4 linked regions of the Homo sapiens genome follow. The protein of the gene in region 1 purifies or fractionates together with the protein of each later gene. This does not show direct contact. Each region holds a gene or a part of one and is shown on either strand. Other genes may lie near its edges.

What was found.
Region 2: the proteins of ZCRB1 (region 1) and KRI1 purify together in Homo sapiens (co-immunoprecipitation; 3 studies listed by BioGRID and IntAct, with this or other methods). This does not show direct contact.
Region 3: the proteins of ZCRB1 (region 1) and ZBTB11 purify together in Homo sapiens (co-immunoprecipitation; 3 studies listed by BioGRID and IntAct, with this or other methods). This does not show direct contact.
Region 4: the proteins of ZCRB1 (region 1) and NOP53 purify together in Homo sapiens (affinity purification with mass spectrometry; 2 studies listed by BioGRID and IntAct, with this or other methods). This does not show direct contact.

Annotation. Positions count from the first base shown.
Region 1 is NC_000012.12:42,311,577-42,316,122, reverse strand, and holds the end of ZCRB1 (zinc finger CCHC-type and RNA-binding motif-containing protein 1), read left to right. Parts: intron 1-2,136; coding exon 2,137-2,249; intron 2,250-2,357; coding exon 2,358-2,433; intron 2,434-2,924; coding exon 2,925-3,056; 3' UTR 3,057-4,037; downstream 4,038-4,546.
Region 2 is NC_000019.10:10,562,980-10,570,628, reverse strand, and holds the start of KRI1 (protein KRI1 homolog), read left to right. Parts: upstream 1-4,618; 5' UTR 4,619-4,629; coding exon 4,630-4,723; intron 4,724-4,738; coding exon of another isoform or gene 4,739-4,838; coding exon 4,839-4,912; intron 4,913-5,594; coding exon 5,595-5,700; intron 5,701-7,649. Other genes in the region: CDKN2D (cyclin-dependent kinase 4 inhibitor D), read left to right, coding at 1,976-2,116, 3,212-3,571.
Region 3 is NC_000003.12:101,648,364-101,653,144, reverse strand, and holds the end of ZBTB11 (zinc finger and BTB domain-containing protein 11), read left to right. Parts: intron 1-206; coding exon 207-365; intron 366-473; coding exon 474-649; intron 650-1,461; coding exon 1,462-1,979; 3' UTR 1,980-4,256; downstream 4,257-4,781. UniProt on the Homo sapiens protein: May be involved in transcriptional regulation.
Region 4 is NC_000019.10:47,741,429-47,748,582, forward strand, and holds the start of NOP53 (ribosome biogenesis protein NOP53), read left to right. Parts: upstream 1-4,117; 5' UTR 4,118-4,131; coding exon 4,132-4,355; intron 4,356-5,538; coding exon 5,539-5,603; intron 5,604-7,154. Other genes in the region: EHD2 (EH domain-containing protein 2), read left to right, coding at 1-4. UniProt on the Homo sapiens protein: Nucleolar protein which is involved in the integration of the 5S RNP into the ribosomal large subunit during ribosome biogenesis. In ribosome biogenesis, may also play a role in rRNA transcription.

The sequences.
Region 1 (4,546 bases):
ACTCTGTCTCAAAAATAAAAATAAACATAAAATAAAATACTTAAAAAACAGAGTCCAGAGGTAGTAATGGGGAACTGGGGAGAGAATCACTGAAAGATACCGTCCTGGCTACAAAATCACATGGAAGATGCAAGGAAATGGCTTGAGGTCCTCTACCCCACTGTCACTCCCCATACCCCCGACAAAAAAGATAACTAAATAAACAGACTGATGGATGGATGAATAGAAAGAGTGAGCAAGCAGTTGCTTGGATACATACTGATTCTGTCAATTCCTATGATTCTAAAACCTCTTAAGTAAACACTTTAGAAACTTTTCCAAAGTTTTGAGTTTTGTAAAAGAAAGAAAGGGAGGGAGGGAAGGTAGTTATATTCAGATTAGTATATATCTTCATATTCACAGTAAATATTAAATTATCTGAGAAATCCTAGATGAATCTGTTAATCGGTTCCTTTTGGTTTATGGATCCATAGAGTTGTTATATTTTTTACATTTTTATATTTAATTTCCCTCCCTCCAAAAAAAACTTTTTTATATTGACCTAGCCTGGTTTTTCTCAAGTTATTTCATTAAATCCTTTTTTAGTATGGGATATGTTAATTTTTTTTTGCTATAATATTATTCCAAAACAGTTTCAGATATGTGTCTCTATTTTCTCAGCAGCTCATTAACAGTAAGTAACCTCTTTAAGTTGGGCTATGTCCTAGGTATACAAAGTGCACAGTCTGTCTGCTCTGTCAAATATACTGGAAAAGCATGATTATTGTTCCCTTCTATTGTTCTAACCTTGGCTCAGTCCCCACACCCTACCCTGACATAACCTCTTAAATGGAATTGTAGTGAGCTGATGTCCAGATTATAGTTGAGCTCTTATGTTTTACAAATCAATGTTCTAGCTAAGTAGGAATAATAGCCTAGTCCAGCATTGTCAAATGAGAATATAATGCAAGCCACGTATGTTACTAAGTCTTCAGAAATCCAATGTGTATTTTACCTTTACAGTACGTATCAATTCAGACAAGTTCTCAGTAGCCACATTGGCTGGCTAGTGACTACTGTAATTGGATAGTGCAAGTGTAGTCAGGATATAAAAGGGAAAAAACGGAAGTAATTCATAGGAAAAGTGAGGAAGAAATTTTCCATTTGTTTTTTGGTTTTTTGTTTGTTTTTTGAGACAGGGTCTTGCTCTGTTGCCTAGGCTGGAGTGCGGTGGCACAATCTCAGCTCACTGCAGTCTCTGCCTCCCGCGTTCGATCAATTCTTGTGCCTCAGTCTCCTGAGTAGCTGGGATTACAGGCATATGCCACCAAGCCCAGCTAATTTTTGTATATTTAGTAGAGACAGGGTTTCCCCATGTTGGCCAGGCGGGTCTTGAACTCACTTCCTAAGGTGACCCACCTGCCTCAGCCTGCCCAGCCCAACAGAGTATTAAGCAACATCTTGGAAATTAACAGGAATAGTTTTATCCTCGTTTTATCAATAACTTAAGATGTTTACATTTAGGGTAAATGATCCATTTAAATTTTGATTTTTTTTTTTTGAGACGGAGTTTTGCTCTTGTCACCCAGGCTGGAGTGCAACGGAATGATCTCAGCTCACTGCAACCTCCACCTCCTGGGTTTAAGCAATTCTCCTACCTCAGCCTCCTGAGTAGCTGGGACTACAGGTGTGTGCCACTTATGCCCAACTAATTTTTTTTTTTTTTTTTTTTTTTTTTTTTTTTTTAGTAGAGACGGGATTTCACCATTTTGGTTAGTCTGGTCTCAAACTCCAGACCTCAGGTGATCCACCCACCTCGGCTTCCCAAAGTGCTAGGATTACAGGCGTGAGCCACCGCGCCCGACCAAACTGTTTTATATCTTGAATTTTGAGATTTAAATGTTTGAAAGAAGACTACTACCACTACTCTTAGTAAAACTACTAAATAGTCCTAAATGTTAAAATAACTGAGAGTTATAATATCACCTTCTAAATATTAAAGTACTGGGTTTTATCATTAATGTCTTCTGTATAGTCCCAGTATGGGAATATTCCTTTTTAAATTTGAAAACTTTTTAGTAATAAGGTACCAGGCAAGTTTTTATAAATAACATCAAATATGGTATTTTTCCTTTCCTTTTTAATGGGAAACAAAAGGAAAGTGGACACTTAAGTTATGCCTGTCCGAAAAATATGCTCGGAGAACGTGAGCCTCCAAAGAAGAAAGAAAAAAAGAAAAAAAAGAAAGCTCCTGAACCAGAAGAAGAAATGTATGTATATTATTCTTACTAAATACATCATCATGTTGCTTTTGTCTTTTGGTTGGTTGCTTTTGATTATTGGTTGGTTACATTCCAATTTGTTTTTCTTTATTTAAGTGAGGAAGTAGAAGAAAGTGAAGATGAAGGGGAGGATCCTGCTCTTGACAGCCTCAGTCAGGCCATAGCATTCCAGGTATTAAATTGTTCTTTTAAAAGGCATCATACAATAGTTGACTTGGTTTATAGTGCTTGCTTACTTCATTGATCACCTCATGGCAACCTCTCTTTTTCCCCCTAACCTCCTAAGCCTTAGGAGACAAGCTGTTTCTCTGAGGTACTTAGCCAGTGTGAATGAAAAGTTCCCATTGGTTCTTCCTAGATTTTAAGGGCCCCACAACACTTACTATCTTAATCTTTTTTCATTAAAGAAATGAGCAGAACTATTTGCTCAAAGTGAATATAGCCCAACAGAAAAGATTTTTTTAAGAAATTGCCTAGGATAATTTTGTGTAAGATTTTGAGATGAGACAGAACTCAGGGGAAGGGAGCAGATCTTATTGTCTGCATGGACTGGGAGGGTGGGAAGTAATGGCATTTGTGGTATGTTTTTGCCATGTTTTGAATTAATGAACCATAAATAATATTAAACAGGTTATTGGTTTTGTTTTGTTTTTTGAATCACAGCAAGCCAAAATTGAAGAAGAACAAAAAAAATGGAAACCCAGTTCAGGAGTCCCCTCAACATCAGATGATTCAAGACGCCCAAGGATAAAGAAAAGCACATATTTCAGTGATGAGGAAGAACTTAGTGATTAAAATCTTGCCCCAGCACAGTAATAAAAATCAAGATTTGTTAGTAACAATCTTGAAGAGCTAATTTTAATAAAAATAAGAAAAATTAATACTATCATGTTAATACTATTATTGTCATCCCAAGAAAAAAGATATTTTAAAAATTTATTTGAAAAGTTCATTATAAGGGCTTTATTCATGCCTGATTTGTTTACATGAGGACTTCTGAAATTAATCCTTAAAACAAACTTCCTGAAGACCGAAAAGTTGAATGATTTATTGTTACTTATATTAATAAACTTTTCAAGAGAATTTTGTCTTTAAATATGGGTGTTTTGTCATCATATTTCTTGTAGCTTTATCCCAATCTGGATAAATTGTAAATACCTATAAAATAAATTATAAATACCTATAAAATATAAAGTAACATAGCTCTAAAAGGCTTAAAATCAAACACAGGTGTTATTTGTCTGCCCTACCCATAGCACCAAATTCCATTCCCTAGAAGAAACTACTTACATGTGCACACATGTAGCTAAATAAAGTACATATATTTCAGTCACTTAATAAAAGAATAAAGGAGAATTATTCAATCTCTTATACTTCTCCTACCTTCCTCAATATTCCCAATGTGGCTGTATTAAAAATTTGGGGGAATCCATATATATCTTTTTTAATAACCAAGTAAATACTTTTCATTTCTGAGCCAAGGAATATGCTATGATTACGTTTTTTCCTAGAGTTAATAATTGTCTATTTTTTTTCCATGTATTGTCTTTGTATTTATGACTAAATCTTCCCATTCTGTCTGCAGGTGGGTATATGGTAATGGGATTAGAGAGCCTTTAATTTTCTGCTTTGTATATTTCTATATTGTTTAACTTTGTAAGAATGCCCATTACTTTTTTAACTAGTAAAAGCAATAGAAATAAGTTAATACTATCATAGTAATATTATTATTGTCATCCCAAGAAAAAATATATTAAAAAGATATTTGAAATTTCATTATAAAATCTTGTGTTTCCACTTTGAAAACTACAAAGTGTTAACCACCCACCAGCAAAGAATCTTCCAGATTGCAACAAGACAATGATTGAATGCAGTACTCAACCATCTGTTTGGCCATTAGTCAAATACCACAACAGTTTTGGTTTGTTTTTTTTTTTTAATTTTTATTCATTTATTTATTTTTGAAACGAAGTCTCACTCTGTCGTCCAGGCTGGAGTACAGTGGTGCGATCTCAGCTCACTGCAACCTCCACCTCCCCGGTTCAGACCATTTTCCTGCCTCAGCCTCCTAAGTAGCTGGGATTACAGGCACGTGCCACCACACCCAGCTAATTTTTGTATTTTTTTAGTAGAGTTGGGGGTTTCACCATGTTGGTCAGGCTAGTCTCAAACTCCTGACCTTGTGATCCACCCGCCTCGGCCTCCCAAAGTGCTGGGATTACAGGCATGAGCCACTGTGCCCGGCCTACCATTTTAAAGCAAATAATTGGGAAAAGATTTGCCAC
Region 2 (7,649 bases), on another chromosome or scaffold:
TGTCTCAGCCTCCTGAGTAGCTGGGATTACAGGTGCGTGCCACCAGGCGCAGCTAATTTTTTTTTTTTTTTTTTTTTTTTTGAGACGGAGTCTCGCTGTCGCCCAGGCTGGAGTGCAGTGGCGCAATCTCGGCTCACTGCAGGCTCCGCCCCCTGGGGTTCACGCCATTCTCCTGCCTCAGCCTCCCGAGTAGCTGGGACTACAGGCGCCCGCCACCTCGCCCGGCTAATTTTTTATATTTTTGGTAGAGACGGGGTTTCACCATGTTGGTCAGGCTGGTCTTGAACTCCTGACCTCGTGATCCGCCCACCTCAGCCTCCCAGAGTGCTGGGATTACAGGTGTGAGCCACCGCGCCCGGCTTTTTGCCTTTCCGTTTCAATGGCTCATCTGGTCAGTCCTCTACCACTCTAAAAAGATTTAACTATTGGCGGAGAGCAGGAGCTCACGCCTGTAATCCCAGCACTTTTGGAGGCCAAGGCAGAAGGATCCGTTGAGCCCAGGAATTCGGGACCAGCCTGGGCAACAAAGCAAGAACCCCAACATAAAAAAAAAAATCTGTATTTAAAAGCCAAACACAAATAACAAACAAAAAACACCAGCCTGGGCAACATAGTGAAACCTCATATCTACTAAAAACACAAATTAGCCGGGCGTGGTGGTGCGCCCTGTAGTCCCAGCTACTCGGGAGGCTGAGGCAGGAGGATCACTTGAGCCCGGGAAGTCGAGGCTGCAGTGAGCTGTGATCGCGCCACTGCACGCCGGCCCGGGTGACAGGAGTGAGACCCTGACTCAAAAATAAATACATATATAAATAAAAATTAACTATTGTCTCTGGCCCCAGACCATAGGTGTCCCTGCAGCAGGGGCCGACTGGCGTGCTCTCCACTCGGGCCCCTCTAGGAGGTGCTAAGTAAATATTTGAACGAAGACCTCTGAGTCCCTGTCTGGCTGCGACTATGTCCTCTCAGGCCTTCCCACGTGGCAGCTGCAGGCTCCTTTCCTGCTGGCTCAGTCTGAGCCCGGCAGGGTGATCCCTTCCTCATCCACTCCGTCTCTCCGTTTCCCTTTCTTCACGGTGCTTGACACTATCTAATATTATTTGGTTGTTTGAATGTGCGCGTCCAGCTCCCAGGACGCTCCCTGCACACAGTGAATGAATAAATGAATGAAATAAAGCGCCCAGCTCGTAGTAAGGGCCAATGAATGTCTATTAGTAGTGGAACCTCGGATTGGGTGGCTCCAGCCCTGCCTCCCTTCCCTCAGGAGGCGCCGAGGTCCCAGAGCAGCCCGCGCGACCCTGCCCCTGACCTTTCTCCCTGGGTCAGTTAAACCAGCCTTCTTTCCCGCCTGCCGGGTTCATTTGAAAACCGAAAACCCCGCCATTGCCGGCGGTCCACCGGTTGCCACACTCTGACCAATCAGGAGCGACGCGTTTCACGCCGAGCCCGAAGTTTCCCCGGCGACGCGCAGCCACTGGTTATGCAGGCCCTGTGGGCGGAACGCCGTAAGGTCGCGCGCCGGGCAACGCGGTGCCGCTACACAGTAGCGAGTTTGTAAGAAAACAAATCAGTTGCGTTCGGGGCGTGGCCGGGAGCACGTTGGCTCCGCCCCCTGGCGGCTGCCTCAGCGGCGGCGGCGGCGCAGGCTCAGAGCAGACCCCGCCCGGCGAGGAGGAGGGAGGGTGAGTTAGGGGGAGACCCGGCCCCCAAGGGGCGGGCGCCGGGCAGGGCCCCGCGGGCGGCCGAGGGTTGGGCCCGGCTCCCAGCCCCTCGCCGTCCTCCGGCTGACAGGGGGAGGAGCCCGCCGGGAGGGCCGGGGTCTCGGGCTGGGGAGCCGGGACGGGAGAGCAGCGCAGCCGGGTGCACCGCGGCCGCGCCCCGGGAGGGCTGTTCGGGCCAGCGCCCGCCGGCTGCTCCGCGCTGACAGCGCCGGGCTGGGGCGGGGCGGGGGGCTTTGCAGGCCGCCAGTGTCGACATGCTGCTGGAGGAGGTTCGCGCCGGCGACCGGCTGAGTGGGGCGGCGGCCCGGGGCGACGTGCAGGAGGTGCGCCGCCTTCTGCACCGGGAGCTGGTGCATCCCGACGCCCTCAACCGCTTCGGCAAGACGGCGCTGCAGGTGAGGCCGGGCCGGTCCAGGTTGGGGCGGGGCGGCTAAGCGGGATGAGGATCGAGACCCCAGAGCTCCTCTCTGGTCTCCTGGCCCTGGTGGTGACCCACTGGGAACCGGTCCTTCTTCTCTAGGCTTTCATTGTTCCCCCACAGTCCCCCTTCGAAGGTGGGTGGTGGGTGAGGCTAGGTTGTGGGGGGAGGGGAGAGCTTTTTAGCATCTTCTCTGGGAGGATTCCTGGTTCTCTGAGTGCCGGGGATTCACTTTCCCTGGGGAGGTTCTTATTCCGTGGGTGCGGGTTCAGCTCCTTTGGATGCCGTTTCCATGGGGACGGCTCACGTTTCTTGGGGCTTCTATGGGGAGATCCGATCTCTGGAAGGAGAGGTCCTGTCTCTAGGGGTTCCTCATTTTGTAGGGGGCTCTCTGAGACAAATCTGGTTACTTGGGGGTGGGGTCTTCATTCCTAAAGGTTATGCGGATCCTTGATATAGTATGGGGGCCCCAATGGAGGAACAATGTCAGATTGCAAGACATCCCTATATTCCCTGGGAGACATTTTACAGGGAAGTCTCGTTTCTCTTTTATTATTACTTTTGGAATCCCGCTTCTTGAAAGGAGCTCTCAGGTACTCTGAGGTGACATCACCATTATGTAGGAGGAGGCTATTTCCTGGAGAAGGGGTTCGCTTTCCTTTGACATCTTTTTTCCCTTATGAGGACTATCAATTCTTTGGGGGTAGTTCTCCATCTCTGGGGGCCCATTTCCTGGAGGGGATTTTCTGTTTCCTGGTGATTGCCCATATCTGGGGGCGTCTTTGGTCCCTTGGGGGAGAGTCTTAGGTTCCTTGAAAGTTTCCATGGGGGGCTGTTCTCTGGGTTGGGGGGTCTCATTCTTAAGGGAGTGACCAGCTTTTGGGGGGGGTCCCTATTCCCAGAAGAACTTTCCTGGGGGCTTATGCAGCTTCTCCGTTCACTAGAGGACCCCTCCTCTAGCATTTCCTGTTTCTGGGAGATGCCTCTTTCTGGATGACCCTTCTCTTTCCAGTGACCCCTTTTGTGGAACCTCCTCCCTTGAGGACCTCCTGATCCTCTGTCCCTCACACAGGTCATGATGTTTGGCAGCACCGCCATCGCCCTGGAGCTGCTGAAGCAAGGTGCCAGCCCCAATGTCCAGGACACCTCCGGTACCAGTCCAGTCCATGACGCAGCCCGCACTGGATTCCTGGACACCCTGAAGGTCCTAGTGGAGCACGGGGCTGATGTCAACGTGCCTGATGGCACCGGGGCACTTCCAATCCATCTGGCAGTTCAAGAGGGTCACACTGCTGTGGTCAGCTTTCTGGCAGCTGAATCTGATCTCCATCGCAGGGACGCCAGGGGTCTCACACCCTTGGAGCTGGCACTGCAGAGAGGGGCTCAGGACCTCGTGGACATCCTGCAGGGCCACATGGTGGCCCCGCTGTGATCTGGGGTCACCCTCTCCAGCAAGAGAACCCCGTGGGGTTATGTATCAGAAGAGAGGGGAAGAAACACTTTCTCTTCTTGTTTCTCCTGCCCACTGCTGCAGTAGGGGAGGAGCACAGTTTGTGGCTTATAGGTGTTGGTTTTGGGGGTGTGAGTGTTTGGGGGACGTTTCTCATTTGTTTTTCTCACTCCTTTTGGTGTGTTGGACAGAGAAGGGCTCCTGCAGGCCACAGCCACCTAAACGGTTCAGTTTCTTCTGCGCCTCAGGCTGCTGGGGCCTCAGACGAGACCCAAGGGCAGAGCATTTAAGAGTGAAGTCATGACCTCCAGGGAGCCTAGAAGCTGGTGGCCTTGGCCGGCTGTGCTCAGAGACCTGAAGTGTGCACGTTGCTTCAGGCATGGGGGGTGGGGGGAGCGTCCCAAATCAATAAGAAGGTAGAATGAGTTATGAGTTATTCATATTCTGTTGGAAGCTTGTTTTCCAGTCTCTTGTACAGCGTTTTAAAAGAAATGGATTCTATTTATTATGCTTTATTGGAAAAAATGTTGTAATAATTTAATGTTTTTACCCATTAAATTAAGACTTGTGCATGATCACAGCACGGGTGGCTTCTGATTTTTGAGTCTGGGATGGAGAGTTACACATCCCGGATGTTGATGGGGATGAGGACGGGGGTCGCGGATCGTGGATGTGGTGGGTGAGGGGAGAGAATAGTAATTCCCAGGGCGCCAGGGTGAGTGAGCTGGGTGGGGCAGCGGTTTTCGCTGTCGGAACGGAAGGGAAGCAGGAAACCGCGAGTGGAGAAAGGGCCCCCAGATGTCAGCTGGGTGCCCGGAGCACAGGGGGTGGGGCGGGTGGGCGGTGGCCGCGGCCTTCCCCGCAGGGGCGTAGCCGTGGGCGGTGACTGCGGTGATGAGGCGAAAGGGATCCCGGAAAAGCCAGGGGCGGGGTTAGCAGCGGTACGCCTCGTTTACAAGTGGATGCGGGCGGGACTGAGGGCGGCCCCGCCCCGTCCAGGGCTTCCTCAATGCGCGTGCGCAATGGGCCACAGAACCGCCATGCCGGAACCGCGCGGGTCGTCGCAGCTGCGGGTGAACGCGGCGTTTGCCGCGCGGTACAACCGCTACCGGGAGCGCGAGGAACTGCAGCGGCGTGAGTGCGGGGCGCATGCGCGCGGGAGCCTGCGCGCGCCGGCCGGTTGGGAAGTGGGGAGTCGAGTGGCCCCGCCGGCTGACCTGGGGGGGGGCATCCCGTCTGTGTCCCGCAGTGAAGGATCGCTACGGGGACCGAGACAGCAGCAGCGACTCCAGCTCCGAGTCGGACTCAAGCGACGAGCGCGTGGTGCGCGTCCCCGCCCCGTCCTGGACGTGCGGAGGCGTCCAAGCCCCCCTCTGCACCCCGACCCCGATGTAGACGGGGGGGAACCCCCAACCCCAGAGCGCCCTGCGGGAGCGTCCCATCCTCCGCTCCCCATCCCATGAGGGACAGACAGTGCCCCCCCTCTCCCCAGGGGAGCCAAATCCCCGTTATTTTCTCTCCCCTGCCACGATCCCCACCTGCCCACTCTGATGTGTGGGGCGACTCTGTCCCCCAAGAACCCCCCCTTTCCTCTTTCATCCTCAAGAGTCTAGCCATTTTTTAGTGTACTCCTTGCGCCACGTGGGGCGCCCAACTTCTCACATCAGCCCTGATCCTGGCCCCACTGTGCGGCCTGGCCCAGCCCCTCCCCGCTGTCTCTCTTGTGCCCTCAGCCCACCTGCCCCTTGTCAAGTCTTTGTCTTCCCCAGGAATTACCTTCTCCTTGCCCCTCACCTTCCTCTACCCATATCCTGTACCTACCTGTGGCCTGCCCCTGCCCACCCCAAGAGGGCCCCTCTCCCTCCTGCTGTTTGACCACCTGTTTGACCTCCCCAGCCAGATCCACCCCCCTCCATCCTAATCCCTACGCTGAGCTCACCTGCTGGCGCCAGGGCTCTTATTATCTCCCTTCTGAAATCTATCCCCAACCCTTTTCCTGCCCTAGGAATTTGATCCCCAGCAGGAGCGGGACTTTTACAAAACGCTCTCCTTGTTGAAGAAGAAGGACCCCCGCATTTATCAGAAAGATGCCACCTTCTATAACAGAACAGGTCCGGGGCCACTCCTGTCTAAACCTCTCCTTCCTCTGGAGCAGAATCCGGGGTCCTTTCCTGACTGTGGATTCAGAGAAGTGACTTGACTTCTCTGAGCCTCTTTTCCTGTCTGTAAAGTATATCTAACGGTAGCATCTCCCCTCAGGGCTGTTTTAAGGATAGATTGGGATTTACCCAGTTTACACAGTTCATCTGTTTTGACTATTGAATGAATTGCTTCACAAGTCACAAGTCCTTAGCAGAGCCTAGGTTATTACCTGGTGGTGGAGTTAATGACTGTGTCCTTGGCACTATTCAAGGTGGGAATTGCTGACTGAATGATTCCAACTCCACCAGGCTGGGCAGGTGGTTCAAGCATCTAATCCCAGCACTTTGGGAGGCTGAGGTGGGAGGGTCAATTGAGGCCAGGAGTTTGAGACCAGTTTGGCCAACATAGCAAGACCCCATTTCTCTTTTTTTTTTTTTGAAATGGAGTTTCACTCTTGTTGCCCAGGCTGGGTTGCAATGGGACGATCTCAGCTCACTGCAACCTCCGTCTCCCAGGTTCAAGCGATTCTCCTGCCTCAGCCTCCTGAGTAGCTGGAATTACAGGCACGCGCCACCACGCCCAGCTAATTTGGGATTTTTAGTAGAGACAGGGTTTCTCCATGTTGGCCAGGCTGGTCTCGAACTCCCAACTTCAGGTGATCCGCCCACCCTGGCCTCCCAAAGTGCTGGGATTACAGGCGTGAGCCACTGCGCCCAGCCAGCCTTTCTTTCTTTTTTCTTTTTTTTTTTTTGAGACGGAGTTTTGCTCTTGTTGCCCAAGCTGGAGTGCAATGGCATGATCTGGGCTCACTGCAACCTCCGCCTCCCCGGTTCAACCGATTCTCCTGCCTCAGCCTCCGGAGTAGCTGGGATTACAGGTGCGTGCCACCACGCCCAGCTATTTTTTTGTTATTTTTAGTAGAGATGGGGTTTCACCATGTTAGCCAGGCTGGTCTCGAACTCCTGACCTCAGGTAATCCATCCGCCTTGGCCTCCCAAAGTGCTAGGATTACAGGCGTGAGCCACTGTGCCTGGCGGCAAGACCCCATCTCTACAAAAGATTCAGAACTCAGCTGAGCATGCTGGTGTGCGCTTATAGTCCCAGGTATTTGGGAGGCTGAAGTGGGAGGATTGCTTAAGCCCATGAGTTCAAGGCTGCAGTGAGCTGTGGGCTAGGATGTTGACACTGCACTCCAGCCTGAGCAAGAGTAAGACTCCAACTCTCAAAAAAATTAATTATAATAATTAATCAGGCTGGGCATGGTGGCTCATGCCTGTAATCCTAGCACTTTGGGAGGTTGAGGCGGGAGGATCACTTGAGGTCAGGAGTTCGAGACCAGCCTGGCCAACATGGTGAAACCCCATCTCTACTAAAAATAACAAAAATTAGCTGGGCGTGGTGGTGCACACCCGTAATCCCAGCTACTCAGGAGGCTGAGGCAGGGGAATCGCTTGAACCTGGGAGGCGGAGGTTGCAGTAAGCCAAGTCACGCCATGCACTGGGCAACGGAGTGAGACTCTGTCTCAAAAAAATAATAATAATGGCCGGGTGCGGTGGCTCACGCCTGTAATCTCAGCACTTTGGGAGGCCGATGCAGGCAAATCACCTGAGGTCAGGAGTTCGAGACCAACCTGACCAACATGGAGAAACCCCATCTCTACTAAAAATATAAAAATTAGCCGGGCGCGGTGGTGGGCACCTGTAATCCCAGCTGCTTGGGAGGCTGAGACATGAGAACAGCTTGAACCCGGGAGGCAGAGGTTGCAGTGAGCCGAGATCATGCCATTGCACTCCAGCCTGGGCAACAGAATGAGACTCCACCTCAAAAAAAAATAAGTAAATAAATAATAACAACAATAATAATAATCAAAGCAGGAATTACTGACTGAATGACCCCAACCCCACCAGATGGTGACAA
Region 3 (4,781 bases), on another chromosome or scaffold:
GATTCTTTCTAAAACATTTCTAGTAGTCTTAAGATGAAAAGAACCTAAAACCCTGTAGCCTTTATGTAAGATTAGAAAATTAGGGAATTCTTTTAAGTTGAGATCATCTTTTGGAGTTCTAAAAAACTAAAAATAGTTACTGAGTTCTTGGAAACTTGTTTTAAAGGAATAAGATTATCCAATTGGGTAACTGAACTTTATTGCAGATGTGAAAAAAGTTTCTTTGAAGCTAGAGATCTTCGCCAGCACATGAACAAACATCTTGGTGTGAAGCCATTCCAGTGCCAATTTTGTGATAAGTGCTATAGTTGGAAGAAAGATTGGTATTCCCATGTGAAGTCTCATTCTGTCACTGAGCCTTATAGGTGAGTAAATTTGAGAAGGAGCTGAACTTAATTGATAACGTGTGTACTCTGATTGTTATGGCTGCTACTTCTTTGGACAAAATAATTGGGTCTTTTCCCCTATTTTAGGTGTAATATATGTGGCAAAGAATTTTATGAAAAAGCTTTGTTCAGAAGGCATGTAAAGAAAGCTACCCATGGGAAGAAAGGAAGAGCAAAGCAAAACCTGGAACGGGTGTGTGAAAAATGTGGAAGAAAATTCACTCAGCTAAGAGAGTATAGGAGACACATGAACAACCATGAAGGTAACTATACTTTATATTATATGTATCCTTATAGAATAAAAGCCAGTCCAGTAGTGATTCTCCCTTTACCAGCTCTTTCACCTTCCTTGGTAAAAGGTTAATTTCATATCTTTATTCAAATGACAGAGGTGATCCTGAACCTGAGTACCTAATTATTGTGTATATAAATAGATTCCTTTTTTAGTGAACTTAATTCTGTATCCACATTGTTATGCTGAACTAAACTATTTGAAGCCTCTGCTTTGAAGGAATGAAGGAATAAATGAGTTTATGCACAGAAACTAAAATTTGTCTCAATCACATCTGTCCGCAGGAAGATCTTTAGAGAGATTTATAGTTCAGAATCTTGTTTATTCTTTTTTTTTTTGAGACAAAGTCTTGCTCTGTCACCCAGGCTGGAGTGCAGTGACGCGATCCTGGCTCACTGCAACCTCTGCCTCCCAGGTTCAAGTGATTGTCATGCCTCAGCCTCCTAAGTAGCTGGGACTACAGGCACCCGCCACCACGCTGGGCTAATTTTTGTATTTTTAGTAGAGATGGGGTTTCACCATGTTGGTCAGGCTGGTCTCAAACTGCTCAGGTGATCCACCTGCCTTGGCCTCCCAAAGTGCTGGGATTACAGGTGTGAGCCACCGTGCCCGGCAAAGAATCTTCTTTATTCTAAGGAAAGTCCTAAATAAAAGATTGCCACAGTCCAGATAGAAAGGCTTATGAGCTACTGTACTTTTTAATAAAAGGAAGTTTGGTAGGCAGTTTAAGTATATTTTGGTGCTTGCACCTCACTACACATGCTTTTTTTTTTTTTTTTTTAGGAGTTAAGCCATTTGAGTGCTTAACATGTGGAGTAGCTTGGGCTGATGCCCGATCTCTAAAACGCCATGTCAGAACACATACTGGTGAACGGCCCTATGTCTGTCCTGTATGTAGCGAAGCCTACATAGATGCTCGAACACTCCGTAAACATATGACTAAATTCCACAGAGACTATGTGCCTTGCAAAATTATGCTGGAAAAAGACACCCTTCAGTTTCATAACCAAGGAACTCAAGTGGCACATGCTGTTAGCATCTTAACAGCAGGCATGCAGGAACAAGAAAGCAGTGGTCCTCAAGAACTTGAGACTGTGGTAGTGACAGGAGAAACTATGGAAGCTCTGGAAGCTGTTGCAGCTACTGAAGAGTATCCATCGGTATCTACACTTTCTGACCAAAGTATTATGCAAGTGGTTAATTATGTATTAGCACAACAGCAAGGACAGAAGCTATCTGAAGTTGCAGAAGCTATTCAAACTGTTAAAGTAGAGGTAGCACATATTTCAGGAGGAGAATGAGTATGTTAATGAAGATAAAAAGAAGTGACATCTCTTGTACACTGAACTCACAGAACATTTGTTTACAATTCTGTGTGACTGTCTGCTTGGAGTTTACATATCAAAGTTCTGGGCTGTTTGGTAACGTAACGTTTCCAAACATTTTGTCTGGCCAATGGGTTCTATAGAAAAGTCCGTTTAGTGTAGAGAAATTGAAAACAGATCTATTAGGTTGGTGCAATTGCTTTTGCACCAACCTAATATTTGATGGCAGTGGTTTATCATGATATACCTTTTATGAATTAATGTTTATAAATGACTGTACTGAATTTAAAACCGTACAGTTTCATTTGCATTTTGACATTACTTTATTATACATTTTGCATTTAAAAGGCTGCACCAGTTGGCTTTTCTTCTGTTTTATTCTCAAAATATAGAGATTCTGTGATTTATTTGCCCTGTTTATGGATTAAAAAGAAAATTCTAATATAAAGCATTTCAATAGGATGCATAGGTATATTACGTTTTTTAAATGCTTTAGATCTGTGATTCTTGACTTACTATTTATTTTATCCCCTTTTAAGTCAGGGATGCTTTATTCTATTTTAAAGCACTTATGAGTTACATGTTGTAATCAAGTTTGCACAATATATTTATCTATATGAGGAACCCATAAATGAATAGCTAATTTTTAAAATGCCATTAAAATGCATGAAATGCTTATTAAAACCTTACTATACTATTTCTTCAAGGCAAGTAAATTGACCATGAGAAAAGAACACAGTTATTAAACACTGTTGACAGGAAAATTCTCCTTGATAACATAGGACAATTAATGGAAAAAAAAATTCTCATTATTTGCAAAGAATGAACAAGTTAATGAACAAACAAACTAGATTTGGTATGTTTTCAGCTTTTGTATCATGTTTAATTGTTTAATTTGGTTGAAAAACTGCAGTTGAGAAATCAGATAGCAATATAGACATTCACAGCAGCTCTGTGGATACCATGTAATTGTCAGGTAATTTCAGAATGTTGAAAATTATTCAGTGCAGCCCTCATAGTATCATACTTGAAGAAATTGATTACAGTTCCACTAAATTGTTGAAGATAAATTATTTTTAAAGGTTATGAAAACTAAGTTATATTAATTCATATGTTTGATTTTTAAATCCCACCTCCTCAAGCTATCCAATTTTCTGACTTTGAAAATAACCATGAGAGATGCCACATTTCTCTCTGGGAAACTACCACTCAAAGAATAATTGTTAAAAATTAAGCTTTTAGGTATTAGAAGCTGTTATAAAGTATAAAATTAAGATATAAGCAGATCACATGTAAATCATTCCTAAAGCACAAGAAAAGAATGTGCCTTGATGTACATATATTACTAAGTTGCCTCTCCCAGTTTACTTTAAAAATGGCTTTAAGGATAAAGAATAAATGTGATAGCTGTGCATGCATTATATATTTGCATTTGCAAATTTCCCATTGTTTTAACAGCTGTGTGGCTGACTTTCAATTTTAAGACGTGAATTGACATACAGCCCATAACTTTATAATGGCTGCTCATTTATCTTATCTTTCAGTTAGTGGAAAAACATTTCAACCTGACTAAAATTTGGAATTGTGTCTTTTATGTTCCATCCTCTGTTGTTACTAGATTTAGTTTAAAAATTGTGTATGACCATTAATGTATGTCATAAACATGTAAATAAAAGATGTTGAATCTTGTTGAAAAGCATGAACTTTGGAGTTGAGCTTGTTACTATTTTCAGTTCATAAATCAGTTGTTACTTGATGTGTTATTAAGTTAATTTATTTTTAAAGGGAAAGGAAATAAAACACTAAAAAATAACGATTGGAGGAACACAATATTAAAACTTCTTACTCTTACATATAATTGATATGGACAAGAGGCAAGGAAATAATGGGTAGAAGAGGGCAGTTCCCCAGCAAAAGCCTGGAAACCCATGGCCCTAAATGGGAACAGGCATTCCTGTTTTCATGCCCAAATGTTGCCTTTTGGCCCACCACGCCCTCCTATCCTGTATCCATATAAACCCTAAACCCCAGGCTCCATGAGCAGAAGAGTGTTGCGGCAGAGGAGAGAAGAGAGGAGCATCTAAACGTCCAGAGGAGTTCAGCTGGGGACGGTTGGAGAGGAGATCATCTTCCCACTCCATCCCCTTTCCAGCTCCCCATCCATCCTGCTGAGAGCCACCTTTATCCAGCAATAAAATCCCCTGCATTTACCATCCTTCAATTTGTCCATGTGACCTGATTCTTCCTGGACGCTGGACAAGAACGCAGGTACCAAGAGGGCACTGAGCTAGTTAACACTTAAGCTATCTGTAGACAGCAGAGCTAAAGGAGCCCTGTAACATTCCCACTGGGGCTTTGGGAGTTGCAGACACCCCCCACCAGATGCTACTGTGGGGCCAGAGCCCAAAAGCACTCAATCCAGCTCCTGCACTTGCCCATCTGCATGCTTCCCCTCCTGTAAGGGGTTTGGGTGAACAAATGAGCCACACCCCTGTCTCATGTCCTGTGAGGATATCTGGGAACTTCCTTTTCATAATCTTGTCACAGGATTATATATTGTGCCATCAACCATCAGCTTTGAATAATGTAAATTTGTAAATTATATAAATTCCATGTAGAAACAAATGTTAAGAAGGTTCCAAAAATTCAGTGCAGTTTTAATGTTACCAAGAGGGCATTGTTAATTTATAACAATTCCTTTTTAGAAACATAAAGCATATTGCTGTCATGAGATGACTTCCAAAAACTATGGGTGTCTCCTGATCAAATATGGACGCC
Region 4 (7,154 bases), on another chromosome or scaffold:
GTGAGCCGGCCCCCCTCCCATGGCCCTGCTGTGGCTCCCCAGCTCCAGTCGGCTGCACGCACACCCCTGCTCCGGCTCACACACGCCCTGCCTGCCCTCCCTGCCCAGCTGTAAGGACCGGGGGTCTCCCTCCTCACTACCGCCAGACACCCCGGTGGAAGCATTTAGAGGGGACCACGGGAGGGACAAGGCTTCTCTGTCCGCCCTTCACACCTCCAGCCTCACGTTCACTTAGGCACATCACACACACACTGGCACACGCAGGCATCCATCCATCCGTCATTCATTCAAATATTTATTGAGCACCTACTATGTGCCCAGCCCTGTTCTAGGCACTGGGCATTACCATAGAGAACAAAATAGACAAATACATCTGCCCTCATGGAAGGTGACGTTCCCAGGAGAGGGCACCTACACAGTCACGCAAACACACACTAATTCCTGGCAGGGCCCCCAGCCCCTCCCCTGGCTGAGCAGCCCTGTGGCTGAAATGACTAGCAGATAAACAGACCCCCTTCTGCTCCGCTTCCTCCTGCCCAGCCAGGCAACACCCTCAACCGGCTCCATCACATCCTCAGGTCTCGGGACCATGGGGGGCTCAGAGGGGAGACACACCTACTGCTTCCTCAGATGGGCCCCTCCGCAGCCCCTTCCCTTGCTCGGGGAAAGCCCCCAATTCTGCCCACACCCATTTATTTCCTTCCTTCCTTCCTTCTTTTCTTTCCTTCCTTCCTTCTTTTTTGTTTTTGCCCCCAATTCTGCCCATACCCATTTCTTTCTTTCCTTCCTTCCTTCTTTTTTGTTTTTGCCCCCAGTTCTGTCCACACCCCTTCCCTTTCCTGTCCTGTCCTTTCTTTCTTTTTTGATAGAATCTTGCTCTGTCGCCCAGGCTGGAGTGCAGTGGTGAGATCTCAGCTCACTGCAACCTCCACCTCCTGGGTTGAAGTGATTCTCGTGCCTCAGCCTCCTGAGTAGCTGGGACTGCAGGCACGCGCCACCACGCCCAGCTAATTTTTGTATTTGAGTAGAGACGGGGTTTCACCATGTTGGCCAGGCTGGTCTCGAACTCCGCATCTCAGGTGATCTGCTCGCCTTGGCCTCCCAAAGTGATGGGATTACAGGCATGAGCCACCGTGCCCGGCTTCACACCCATTTCTTTAAAAAGGATCCCGTAGCAGGCAGAAAAGCCCCTTCCATCCTGCTCCTCTGATACTGTGCCCCCTTGGAGATATTTCCGTCCTCCACCCACGTGTCTGTGGCTGGAACTGCCCAGCCTGCTCCTGGCCCCCTGGAAGCCTCCCCACAGCTGGTAATCTGGACTTAAGGATTGCTGGGCCACCGCCTCTCTGCCTACCACCATTCCATATTTAAGTGGAGCCCCTACGTAGAAAGGCCCCGGGGCTTTATTTTAGTCTCCTTTTCAGGGATGTCGTGGGCGGGGGAGGGGGTTCTTGGTGCTACAGCCCTCTCCCCACCCCTAAAGGGACGCCGACGCTGTTTGCTGCCTTCACCACATATTAGTGCTTGACCCTGGCAGGGGACCCCATGGAAAAGATGGGGAAGAGCAAAATACATGGAGACGACGCACCCTCCAGGATGCTCGCTGGGATTCCCACGCCCACCACTGTCCCCCACCCCATGGCTGGGAGGGGCCTCTGAACGGAACAGTGTCCCCACAGAGCGAATAAAGCCAAGGCTTCTTCCCATGTGGCAGTGAGGCTGGCTTGGGACAGGGATCGCCCGCCCTCCCCCAGGGAAAGAGAGACCTGGGCAGGATTTGGGGTGGGGGGAGGCCCCCTTCCGTGCTCTCAGGGGCGGGGTGGAGTCCGTGACTCAATGCAGCGAGGCCTGGTGACTCAGGCCTGGGCTGGGGGCCAGAACGGCATATTTTCCGAGGAAAAGTGACTCTGGGGCCCTCCCCCCGGGACATCCCTTCCTCCCACCTCCCGCGGCGGGGGCCTGGGAACCAAGCCCTGGGGCGCGCGCGGGGTGTGTGTGTGTGTGTGTGTGTGTGTGTGTGTGTGTGTGTATTCGGGCACGAAGTGCTCTCCCAGCTCCCGCCCTGCCCGGCAACGTGCCCTTGCACAACCTGGGTACATAACTCCCGACGCGTAACACCAGGAACACGCTGGTTTCTGGTTGGGGAAGTGGTGACCTTGCCCACACGGGCTGCCAGGAGTGTGCGCGCGCTCACGCACCGGGGACTCTTGGCCAGAGCTGGGCAGCGCACCGTGCGCGCCGAGTCCCGCGCACTCACATCCAGGCCACACCCACGGCGTCCCGGGACACGCTGGCCGCGCACTCATCCCGCCCACGCGGGCCCAGTTTCGCGGCTCGCGGCGCCCCCTGGCGGACGCTCAGAAAACAGATAGGCTGTGGTCGCCAAAATCCCTGCCCAGGTGATTCGGCGCTCAGGTCTCGGGGCTGCGATCCAGGGCCTGTCACCTTTAGGGCCTGTCACCTTTCCAACGCTCTGCGCAAGGATCCAGTTGAATTTCGCTGTGTGACCATGCGTGTGTCGCCTGCCCTCTCTGTGCCTTTTTCCTTTATGAGTCCAGAGTGGCTTTTATGAGGCCTGGATTCCTTTGATTTGATTGTTTTGTTTTTGAGACAGGGTCTTGCTCTGTCACCCAGGCTGGAGTGCAATGGTGCAATCACGGCTCACTGCACCCTCCAACTCCTGGGCTCAAGCGATCCTCCCACCTCAGCCTCCCGAGTACCTGGGACTACAGGCGCACACCATCACGCCTGGCTAATTTTTAAATTTTTGGCAGACACAGGATCTCACTATGTTGCCCAGGCTGGTCTTGAATTCCTGGGCTCAAGCGATCCTCCTGCATCGGCCTCCCAAAGTGCTGGGATTAGAGGCGTGAATCACCACGCCCTGCCATGGATCCCTTTGAATGGCTGCCAGGGCCCAAGAGCCTCTGAGCTTCCTTCCTTATTTGTAAATGACAAAGATGAGTTGATTCTAAGATGAAGCCTCAGAGGGCAAGGCAGTAACAATAGCTAACACTCAGATGCCAGACGCAGCCTTAAGCGCTTTACATATGTTTAATCTTCTGCATGACTTATGACGCAGATGTACTGTTATCATCTTTATTTTACAGATGAGGAAACTGAGGCACAGTGAAGTAGCCCGCTCAAGATGAATGATTCTGAGTCTGCACTTCTAGGGTCCTAAAAGTGTATGTTTCTAACATTCCTCTAATGTTCTGTGCTTCCAACTTTGATATTCCGAAAGTTACTTGATTTCTAAGATCCTAGGATTGGAACATTTGAGAGGACAAAACTTCTGAGATTGGAATGTGTGTTGTGCGGAATCTGCCACTGACGGTTCTGACTTTCTAAGAAAACGAGATTAAAAAATAATCAGGCCGAGCATGGTGGCTCACATCTGTAATCCTAGCATTTTCGGAGGCTGAGGAGGGAGAATCACTTGAGCCCAGGGGTTCAAGACCAGCCTGGACAACATAGTGAGACCTTTGTCTCTTAAAAAAAAACACACACACATCAGTTTGGACCGGGAGTGGTGGTGTGAGCCTGTAATCCCAGCGCTTTGGGAGGCCTAGGAAGGAGGATCACTTGAAACCAGATGTTTGAGACCAGCCTGGGCAACATGGGGAGGCTCCATTTCTACAAAAAATAAAAATAAAAAATTAGCCAGGTGCGGATGCACCCTTCTGTGGTCGCAGCTACTCGGGAGGCTGAGGTAGGAGAATCCCTGAGCTTAGGAGTTGGAGGCTGCAGTGAGCCATTACCCTTCCACTGCACTCCAGCCTGGGGGCAACAAAGTGAGACCTTATCTATTAAAGAAAAAAATCAGTTTGAGCAAAGACCCCAGGCGGCCGGGAAAGGTGTTCGCTTAAGGGCGAAAGCTAAGAACCTGCAACCTTCCCGTCTCTTTCCTACCACCCGCCGCCGTTAGGAATCTTCAGATCCCGCTGTAAAGAATGGAGGAAGGAGGAGCCATTTATCCTTTACCAAGATGGCAGCCTCCTGGCAACTCCAGTCACTTTATAAATATGGCTGCCACAGGAAGTACGTCACGGAAGAGGGTGGGAAATCTGCGCGCGCACGCTGCAAAGGGGCTTTTTGGGACGCCAGTGGCTGAGTTCTTCCTTTGACAAGATGGCGGCAGGAGGCAGTGGCGTTGGTGGGAAGCGCAGCTCGAAAAGCGATGCCGATTCTGGTTTCCTGGGGCTGCGGCCCACTTCGGTGGACCCAGCGCTGAGGCGGCGGCGGCGAGGCCCAAGAAATAAGAAGCGGGGCTGGCGGCGGCTTGCTCAGGAGCCGCTGGGGCTGGAGGTTGACCAGTTCCTGGAAGACGTGCGGCTACAGGAGCGCACGAGCGGGTACGTTGGGCGGGACTTCCGGGAGGTGGGACGGTTCCTGCGCCCAGGTGCAAGGCCAGGCGTGCTTGCGTGGACTCGTCGGGGGTCGGGGGTCGGGGGTCGGGGGTTGGGGGCTCCTGTCCCGGGGACCGCCGAGGAAATGGAGAGCATGGGCAGGGGACTCAGCATGGGAAGCTGGAGAGCTTGATAGAGTTACCAGATTTAGCAGATAAATATACAGGACGCTCAATTAAATTTGGATTTTAGGTAAACAATGAATAATTTTTAGCATAAATACGTTCCATGCATCCACCTTAGCTTGCTGTTTTCTAAATATGTGTGTGTGTGTATGTATATATGTGTGTGTATATATATGTGTATATGTGTGTATATATATATGTGTATATGTGTGTGTGTATATATATGTATATATATATGTTTTTCAGACGGAGTCTCGCTCTATCGCCCAGGCTGGAGTAGGCGCGATCTCAGCTCACCGCAACCTCCGCCTCCCAGGCTCAAGCGATTCTCCTGCCTCAGCTCCTTAGTAGCTGGGATTACAGGCGGGCGCCACCACGCTCGGCTATTTTTCTTTTCTTTTCTTTTTTCTTTTTTTTTTGAGACGGAGTCTTTCTCTGTAGTCCAGGCTGGAGTGCAATGGCACGATCTCGGCTCACTGCAACCTCTGCCTCCTGGGTTCAAGTGATTCTCCTGCTTCAGCCTCCCAAGTAGCTGGGATTACAGGCATGCACCACCACGTCCGGCTAATTTTTGTATTTTTAGTAGAGACAGGGTTTTGCCATGTTACAGGCCAGGCTGGTCTTGAACTCCTGACCTTAGGTGATCCACCCGCCCCGGCCCCCTAAGGTGCTAAGATTACAGGTGTGAGCCACCACACCCAGCCTAATTTTTGTATTTTTAGTAAAGGCAGGGTTTCACCATGTTGGCCAGGCTGCTCTTGAACTCCTGACCTCAGGTGAGCCACCCGCCTGGGCCTCCCAAAGTGCTGGGATTACAGGCGTGAGCCACTGCGCCTGGCAGTCCTTCCTAAATACTAAGTTCTGTAAACTGCTGGGCGAAGCCTTAGCCTGGAAGAGTCCGGTGGCGGGACTTGACTAAGCGGAAGATGAAGGCTGGACCTGCCAGGTTAAATCTCTTTCCTCTCCAACATCTCTGGCTGATGTTCTGCATTTCTGTCCCCCAGTGGCTTGTTGTCAGAGGCCCCAAATGAAAAACTCTTCTTCGTGGACACTGGCTCCAAGGAAAAAGGTGAGGAGAGGCTTTTGTGGTGTGGAATGGCGGTTATTCATTGTTAGTCAGCTTACGGTAGCCTCTGAGATCTGTGTTAATGATGTGGCTTGGAAGGCAAATATCTGCGGAAACAGGTCAACCTTAATATAAACAAGGGGACCTCAAATGGGCAGAAAGCAAGCTGGAGACGAACTTAGAGAAGGCAGGTTTTTCTTTTGAGATGTCAGTGATCTCCATGCACAGATAAGCTGCTGGGAGTCTGCCTTGATGAATAAGTTAGAAACACATTAAAGGATCTCTTTTTAGCTTGCAGAAAAGCAAGTCAAGGACCTGCTTAACTCAGTCCTGCCGGTTGCGGTGAGTCACGCCTGTATTCCCAGTACTTTGGGAGGCTCAGGCAGGCAGATCACCTGAGGTCAGGAGTTCGAGACCAGCCTGGCCAAGATGGTGAAACCCCGTCTCTGCTAAAAATACAAAAATTAGCCAGTTGTGGTGGCGGGCACCTGTAATCCCAGCTACTTGGGAGGCTGAGGCAGGAGAATCACTTGAACCTGGGAGGTGGAGGTTGCAGTGAGCCGAGATCGCGCCGCTGAACTCCAGCCTGGGATTACTATTATTTTTTTGAGACAGTGTTGCGCTGTCATCCAGGCTGGAGTACAGTGGTGTGATCTCAGTTCAAGCGATTCTCCTGCCTCAGCCTCCCAAGTAGCTGGGACTGCAGGCTGCACCATCAAGCCTGGCTAATTTCTTTTCTTTTCTCTCTCTCTTTTTTTTTTTTTTTTTTTTTTTTTGAGATGGAGTTTCAAGCCCAGGCTGGAGTGCAATGGCGTGATCTCAGCTCACCGCAACCTCCACCTCCCAGGTTCAAGCGATTCTCCTGCCTCAGCCTCCTGAGTAGCTGGGGTTACAGGCATGTGCCACCATGCCCGGCTAATTTTGTATTTTTAGTAGAGATGGGGTTTCTCTATGTTGGTCAGGCTGGTCTCGAACTCCTGACCTCAGGTGATCCGCCCGCCTCGGCCTCCCAAAGTGCTGGGATTACAGGCATGAGCCACCACGCCTGGTCAAGCCTGGCTAATTTCTGTATTTTTAGTAGAGATGGGTCTTCATCATGTCAGCTAGGCTGGTCTCAAACTCCTGACCTCAGGTGATCCACCCGCCTTGGCCTCCCAAAGTGCTGGGGTTATAGGCGTGAGCCGCTGCGCCTGGCCAAGATGAGCTTTAATAGGAATAAGAGGACTTGCTTTAGTGAGCGGGTAACACACGTCTTAACTTGCTTGCCTTAAGTTGCTAGAATGTAGGGTGGGGATCTGCTGAAACAAGATGAGGCGTGAGGGAGGGATTGCTCTGGTGAGTAATAGTGTTTACTTCAATATGTAGAAAAACAAACTAAGAACAGATGATCTGCTCTAATGAACAGCCTGGAAGCAAGCGAAGGGGTCTGCTTTAATGAGCAAGAGAGTGAGCTTGTGTGAGATCAGTCAAAGGGTATGTTTTAATGAAAATGAGCGGACCTGGTTCAGTGACCAGATAGAGTGGAAGGAGCTGCCCTGAGGTACAGGAGACTTC